Homo sapiens: one gene and its partner. The protein of the gene in region 1 purifies or fractionates together with the protein of each later gene. This does not show direct contact. Each region holds a gene or a part of one and is shown on either strand. Other genes may lie near its edges.

Region 1 (3,811 bases):
AAAAGAAATGTTAATCTTACAATTGACATGTCTTCAATTTGATGAAATCTGATATTCAGGTCTTGGTTTTATTAATGTACTCATGAAGCATTTATTGAGCACCTAAAGGCACAACACTAAATGTCAATGAGGAAGAGCAAATCAACTCCACACTTTCTTACTGAACACTTCTTATTTTCTGGGCATTGGGATGCACTAAAGAGACAGCATCAGAGTTACAGCCAAAGAGACCAGCAGTGCAGAATCCAGCACTTAATATACCATGTTCACAGGCAACTTGCTTAACCTCACCAAATGGTAGTTTCCTAACCTAATCTTCAAGATGAGCAGGAGAATTCCTCACAGGACTGCTGTGAGGATTGGTTGCTAATGCCAGCATTAATGAGTAAACTTTCAATCAAAGGGATGAGATGAGACACATTCAGATAGTTAACATGTGAGACTGTGGCAAATGCCACCGAGGGAGAAAGCCAAATGGCTCTGAGAGGTCTAAGAAGAAAGCCCTTACTTCTGGCCACAGAAGGTGTTGTCCACAATGGGCTTTGGAGGATAGGTAGGATTTACTATTTAGTACAAGATAAAGGAGAAAAGTATGTGAGGCAAAGGCAACACAATGCAAAGAAGCTCAAGTCACATTTAAAGCAAGATGGGTGTTTTAGCTTGGTTGCTGCACAGCGTAAACAAGGACAAGGGGAATGATGGGCCAGAAAAGCGGCCAGAGCCACAGGCAGCTGTGAATATCAGTTAAGGGGCCTGTGTTTCACTGGTGAGCAAGGAGGAACCACCAGGAAGTTTTGGAGTAAAGGAGTGTGCTTAACCATGAGAAATACTGATTACTAATAGAAAAAAAATCCCCTCTATCAAGAGTTCTTTATTTGTAGAATTGGAAACAGCCTTCACAATACTCAATTATGCATTAAGCTCTGTCTGCAAGAGAGAAAAAGTGGCAAGCCAATTTGGACAAATTCGTTAAGACAGCAGTGAGCTCTAGAGAGTCTGTTGGTTACTCTTGGTATTCATACACAGATAGCAAGATGATGCTGGTCTTCAAGGAACGGTTACTTTAGTAAGGGAAACAGAGATGGAAACAGTTATCAGTGAAACATGGCAGGGTACCACAAGTGTGGTGATAGAAGAACAATAAATCTGTTATGGGAACACAGAAAGAGACGGAACAAAAAGCTCCTGCTCAGTCTAGAGAATAAGGCAGTGGCGCTCTGTGGCTAGTTTCTCACTCTCCTACTTCTTCTACCTCCTTAAAGATCTCTGGCTCCAAGATCCACCAGTATAGATGGTGTCTCATACTTCTAGAGAAGGAGACAAACAACAAGGCTCCCCTGATTTCACACTTTGAGTCCCACAACATTTTGACACTTCTGCAAACCTGGAAGGTATTTTCTCCAGTTACTCTTGCCACATATCCCTGATGGTGAAAATATACTGGGTATTAGGTTTACTTTAGTTCTAGGGTTTGGTTTTCAACTCAGAGAAGCAGCTTGAAATAGTAAAAGACTAAAGGCTTTGGGGCCCAACACAGCTGGATTTAAATCAGGGGTGTTACCCACTAGCTGTGCAGCCTTAAGCAAATCCGTGATAACTAAACCTTGTTTCCCCACCTACAACATGGTGATAGTACTGCCTAACCCTGAAGGTTAGAAATAATACTTAAGTGCCTAGGCATTACAGTAAGTTCCCAATAGATAAGTCGATATGATGGTAGTTACAATGCTAACAACTACCATTTAATGAATGCTTTCTCCACCAAGCACTGTTCTGAGAGCTTCACATATATTTCCTCATTAACTCCACACAGCAATACTGTGAGGTAGGTACTATTATTATCCTCACCTTACATATAAGGAATCTGAGGCCTCTGTGTAGATTACCCATGCAAACTGGTGGCAGGGAGCAATTACAATCATCCAATGTAAACTCACAGGTAATTCCTGAATCTCCCTTTCCATCAACTATTAATTCCGCAAGCAGTTGGTGACCTCTACTGTGAATCTGGCATTAGAGATACAATGGTAAAATAAGACATGGCTGCTCCTTTAATGGGAAAAGGGAGATAGGTAACCAGTATGAAAAAAACAATGAGGCTGTCCATGTATCATCCATCCATCCATCAACAATCAAGGTTAAGGACAACCAATAAAACATTGAAGCCAGGCACGGTGGCTCACGCCTGTAATCCCAGCACTTTGGGAGGCCAAGGTGGGCAGATCATGAGGTCAGGAGTTCGAGACAGCCTGGCCAACATGGTGAAACCCCGTCTCTACTCAAAATACAAAAATTAGCGGGGCATGGTGGCAGGCACCTGTAATCCCAGCTACTCGGGAGGCTGAGGCAGGATAATTGCTTGAACCCGGGAGGCAGAGGTTGCAGTGAGCCAAGATCATGTCACTGCACTCCAGCAAGGGTGACAAAGCAAGACTCTGCCTCAAAAAAAAAAAGAAACGATGGTGTTTTTGCTTAAAAATTAAAAACATTTACATAGTATTTAAAGTAAGTATATGAACTAAAAGGCTGAATTTCCTTATTTCTTTTTCTGAAACTTTCTGATACCCTAAAAATAAGTTTACATGTGGTTACTAGCTTTGAGCAAAATTCTTTCCATTCCAAATATGTCAATGTGTTTTGTAAATGCTACCTGTGAAACCCATTATACTCTTTCCCACAAAGTATTTCTACTAAAATGCTGTGTACTTAAGAATACCAGCTATAAAACACCATAAAAGCTATTCCTTGCTCTCTATTGTGTAGCTGTAAAACTTGGAAATTTTATCATCAATACTCTTGCTAGCTTACATTTATTATAGACCTTTTGTATCTAACTGTAGCTCTCCCTTTTCCCTTTCTTTTCAATTAGAATATTATCTATTACAGGCATCTACAAATTGTAACTGTATAAAAGAGCAAGCAGTTAGCTATGATTTAACTCTCTTATTAAGAGACACAATTCTCAGAACCAAACTAATACAGTCATTGGATTTAGTTTCTGTGTTAAGGGGAAGAAAGGAGGTGCTCATAGAGAACACGGCACTGAAGATGTGAGAGGACAGGCAGACAGTAGCCACAATCCACTCTGCTTTGGTGTCCAAAGAGATACTATTTCACCAGTTTCTCTTCCCAGGGTTATCAGTCTCACATCCACCAAGAGGGAAATGAACTATAAAAGGAACAAAATGATTCTTCTTCTCTAAATAAATACAAATGACCTGAAAATGTTTGTGAGGATTAAATGAGGTAGTTTATATTAAAAGTGTATAACAAAATTGTAGCTATATAATACACATGAAATAAAACTATTATTACTATCTTTAATTTTTAAAAAATTATTTGTCATTAAGGTCACCAAACTAGAGTTAAACAAAGCCAACCTTAATTAAGTAATATGCCCTCATTATCTTACCCCTTGAAATAGTATATCAGCTAGCTACCTTCATTGACTCCAATCAAAAGACTAGATAATTTTTTTAAAAAATAAGATATCACTTGATGTCACTTGCTACTGTAAATCTCACCACTTTTAAGAGTAACTATTAATTAATAACAAGAATAAGCTCTGATTACTTTAAGGTACACTTAGAAAAAGAGCTATTCATTTTAACATAATTACTATTATATATTAAGTTTCTTTAAAAATTCTGTTCTAATAGGTGAAACTTTCCATTATAATTGTGTTCAATTATCAAATATAAAAGCATTAGATTTAACCCCTCCATTCAGTTGTGATACATATTAGTTCCTGGAGTAAAAAGAGACTAAAGAAGAGGTGTTAGGATCTAGAACTTATACTTCCAATTAATTT
Region 2 (3,204 bases), on another chromosome or scaffold:
TGGACTTCATTTGCCCAAGGACAAGGGTTCTGAGTGGAAGCAGCTTCTACAGCATCAGTTTCCTTTCTTTTTTGAAAGTTGGTGCTGGGTGGAATCCTAGAGGCCCGGATACAACTTGCTTATACTAGGCCCAAGACCCAACACATAGATATTTTATCATGTACCTGAGAAACTTACACGGGAGAAATTCTATTCTAAAACTACAAATTGCACCTCATCACCATCCACTGAATGAGGAAAATAAAGAGTTGTAAGAACTACCTCTACTGAGTTCTGCTCTGTGCCAAAGTGACCCAAGGCCCAAAGGGCCTGAACTGCTTTGCCCTTTCTCCATGACCCAACAGTTGTAAATTGAGAAATTGGAAAATCGGAGATTACATACAACACTCCTCAAATCCATGTTGACTTCTTGAGTCTTAAAAAGATACTTCCTAATCACTGTGCAAGACAAGTACTTGACTAGACTCTGACCTTGCTCAAGTTCAAAAGCTTTTGGGTCTCCAGAACTTCTCTCCTGAAAGCTACACTTACTTGCAAAGTTAACAGAAGAATTGAGATATTCTAAATTGATCCTAATAAATATTGGTCACCAGACTGGAAAATTCTGGTTAAGAAAAAATATTTTACTGAATTATCTGCATAATTATTCTGGTTCACCTGATTTCTTTTGCCAGAATAGATTTAGGCTGTTTAAAATTCAGATATTGAATAAGTGACCTATCCCAAATTAATCTCCAACTGTGTATGTTATGTTGCTGTTTAGTCATTATTTTTTCTGACCCAAAAAGAAGACAAAATTCTGTTCATTTACATGGTTTATTGTTGTAAACATTAAAATTGTCTTTCTCAAAGAAAGAATTTATCAGAAAAAAAATCAGCATCTCTAACTGTCATACACCATAGAAAAAAAGGCAGTGACTCATATCATGTGCCATACTAGAAATATACAAAGAAAAATACTACAGAATATGGCAATATTAAAATTCTTACTCAAACAAAATAATAAATTAACTGACAATTTTAGACATAAAAAAAATTCAAAGTGCTCAGTTATTTCCAGGGAGTTATGTATATTATAAGCACTCTGGAAACAGTCAAAAGCTGCTGCATGCAAGTTTTGTTTAGCTTTAGACAACAAAATAATCAAGATATAAACTTTCTTTTTATCAACATCAACGGTACATACAACACTTACAAACAAGGAATGTTGGACGGTGTTACAAACACTATGTGTCCCTTTTGTCAGGATTTTCTGATGTGTAATACTTGTGCCCACCTATTTTACAATTGAGAAAATGTTTAAGCTCAGATAACTACCAATCTTTATAAAATCTAACAGACTACATAGTGTCTGAAATACTATTTATATAATATAGACATTACTGAAGTAGCAAGTGCCTATAACATTTTCAACCTAGAATCAACATGCTTGTCCCTTTTTTATGTATTTATTTTCTTTTTTTTTGCAAACACACTTATCTTTTAGAATTTGTAATATTTATTCATAAATAGGCACAAAATAATTTAAAAAGCCAAACTGCATTGGGTAAATTTACAAGCCTTTGCCTTCTTCAACTCATGCCACCCACGCAACATTTAGTTTTACTATATATTACAGCTTTCTTTACAGCAGAAAACTTTGAAGTCTTGTTAAAGGGCAATACTTGTGGGTCCCCTTAAGATGTGTCTCTGTGTGTGTGTGTGTGTGTGTATGTGTGTGTGTGTTACATTTGTCTGAACTGCAACAACCAAGCATGGCCAAACATTTCCCATTATACATTATAGCAATCTTTCTTCTGAACAACAAACTGATTTTTAAACTGAGAATAAAAAGTTTATACCACTGTATTGTGTGTAGTCCATGTTCTAAATCCAGGATGCCCCGGAGCCAAAATGCCCTTTCAGGTTCTGCCTGCAGGTTAGGAAATAGCAACAGTTTTTGTTTGTTTGTTTGTTTTCTTTAGGGATCAAGGGGGCTAGGAGGGTTACAGAAATGGGGGGCAGCTTGAGCTGAGACTGCTCACACGGCTATCTCTGCCCATGTGACTTGCCCCCTCTTGACAGTTTCCATTATCATTCCAGTTCCTTTGAAGTGCTTGGGAGGAGGTCTTAGAAAGGTAAAGTGTCCAGGAAAAGTTTGTCAATTATTGCTGGCGGTGGCACCAAGTCTTCCAATTTCAGGTAGAAAATGCGCTGTAGCCCCTGTGTGCAAAGGGTACGAAGTTCTGGGAGCTTCCCCAACAGTTTGGACAAATAATTGGGGCGGTTCAACCCCCCATTGTTGAAAGTCACGTGGTCTTTGAGACAATTTACAATCTTGTTTTGCAGTTCTTCCACTCTCTTGGGTTCCTTGAGCCCGTGTCTCTCTGCAGAAAACATAATCAGAAACAAAAGAAGAATGTACAAGACAGTTAGCTAGTTGGCAAAACCAAGGAGAATCTGTGACAAGGGAAACTCAGGACAAATCCTGCTAGGCAGTTCTGGAGGGGAAGCGCCCTGCGCCTGCAGTACTGACCTGTGACCATAGCCAGGGCAGCAATGCAGGAGAAGGCAGAAATGTCGATGTTCATATTCTGCAAGTTGGAGGAGAATTCAACAATGGAATCAATCCATTCCCCAAAGCCACGAACGCATTGCAACCTGTGCAAGACCACCCCATTGCAAAAGATGAGTTTACCCTCCACTGGGTTGGACCTGCAATTAATACCAAAGAGAGAGAGGGGAGAAAAAGAGAGAGAGAAAAGCTAAACAACTAATTACTTGAAGAGCAATAAATGAGGGATTTAAGAGTCACCTAATTACTGAAGAGTTAATAAAATGTAGACCAGTGGACCTTGAAAGGGTTTAATTTCATAACAATCAAGAACGCCCCCTATCCCACCTCCATTCCATTCATCCAAGGCTTCTGGGCTCGCTTCTTCTCGTCTTTTTTTGTTTTCTTTCTTTTTCTTCCTTTCTCCGACTTCCATTTCCTATTCTGTCTTTTTCTCTACCCCACCCTCTGGTTTCCCTTCCTCCCTTTCTTTTCCTTTCTTGATTTCTCTCACAGCCTCCCTGGATTGTCTCCCTCCCTCCCTTATTACCTGTATGCTAATCGAAGGACAAACAGTTCTAAGAAAGCTGATTCAAAAAGCAGGTCTTGGTCGGCTTTGGGCAGGTCTGCGAAGCCAGGGATCTTCTCTGCCCAGCCCCGGATGATCTCCA

Evidence for each region.
Region 2: the proteins of FDX1 (region 1) and NR4A2 purify together in Homo sapiens (tandem affinity purification; one large-scale study listed by IntAct). This does not show direct contact.

What each region holds. Positions count from the first base shown.
Region 1 is NC_000011.10:110,457,257-110,461,067, reverse strand, and holds part of FDX1 (adrenodoxin, mitochondrial precursor), read right to left. Parts: intron 1-3,811.
Region 2 is NC_000002.12:156,323,635-156,326,838, forward strand, and holds the end of NR4A2 (nuclear receptor subfamily 4 group A member 2), read right to left. Parts: coding exon 3,084-3,204; intron 2,695-3,083; coding exon 2,516-2,694; exon of another isoform or gene 2,513-2,515; intron 2,367-2,512; coding exon 2,110-2,366; 3' UTR 803-2,109; downstream 1-802. UniProt on the Homo sapiens protein: Transcriptional regulator which is important for the differentiation and maintenance of meso-diencephalic dopaminergic (mdDA) neurons during development.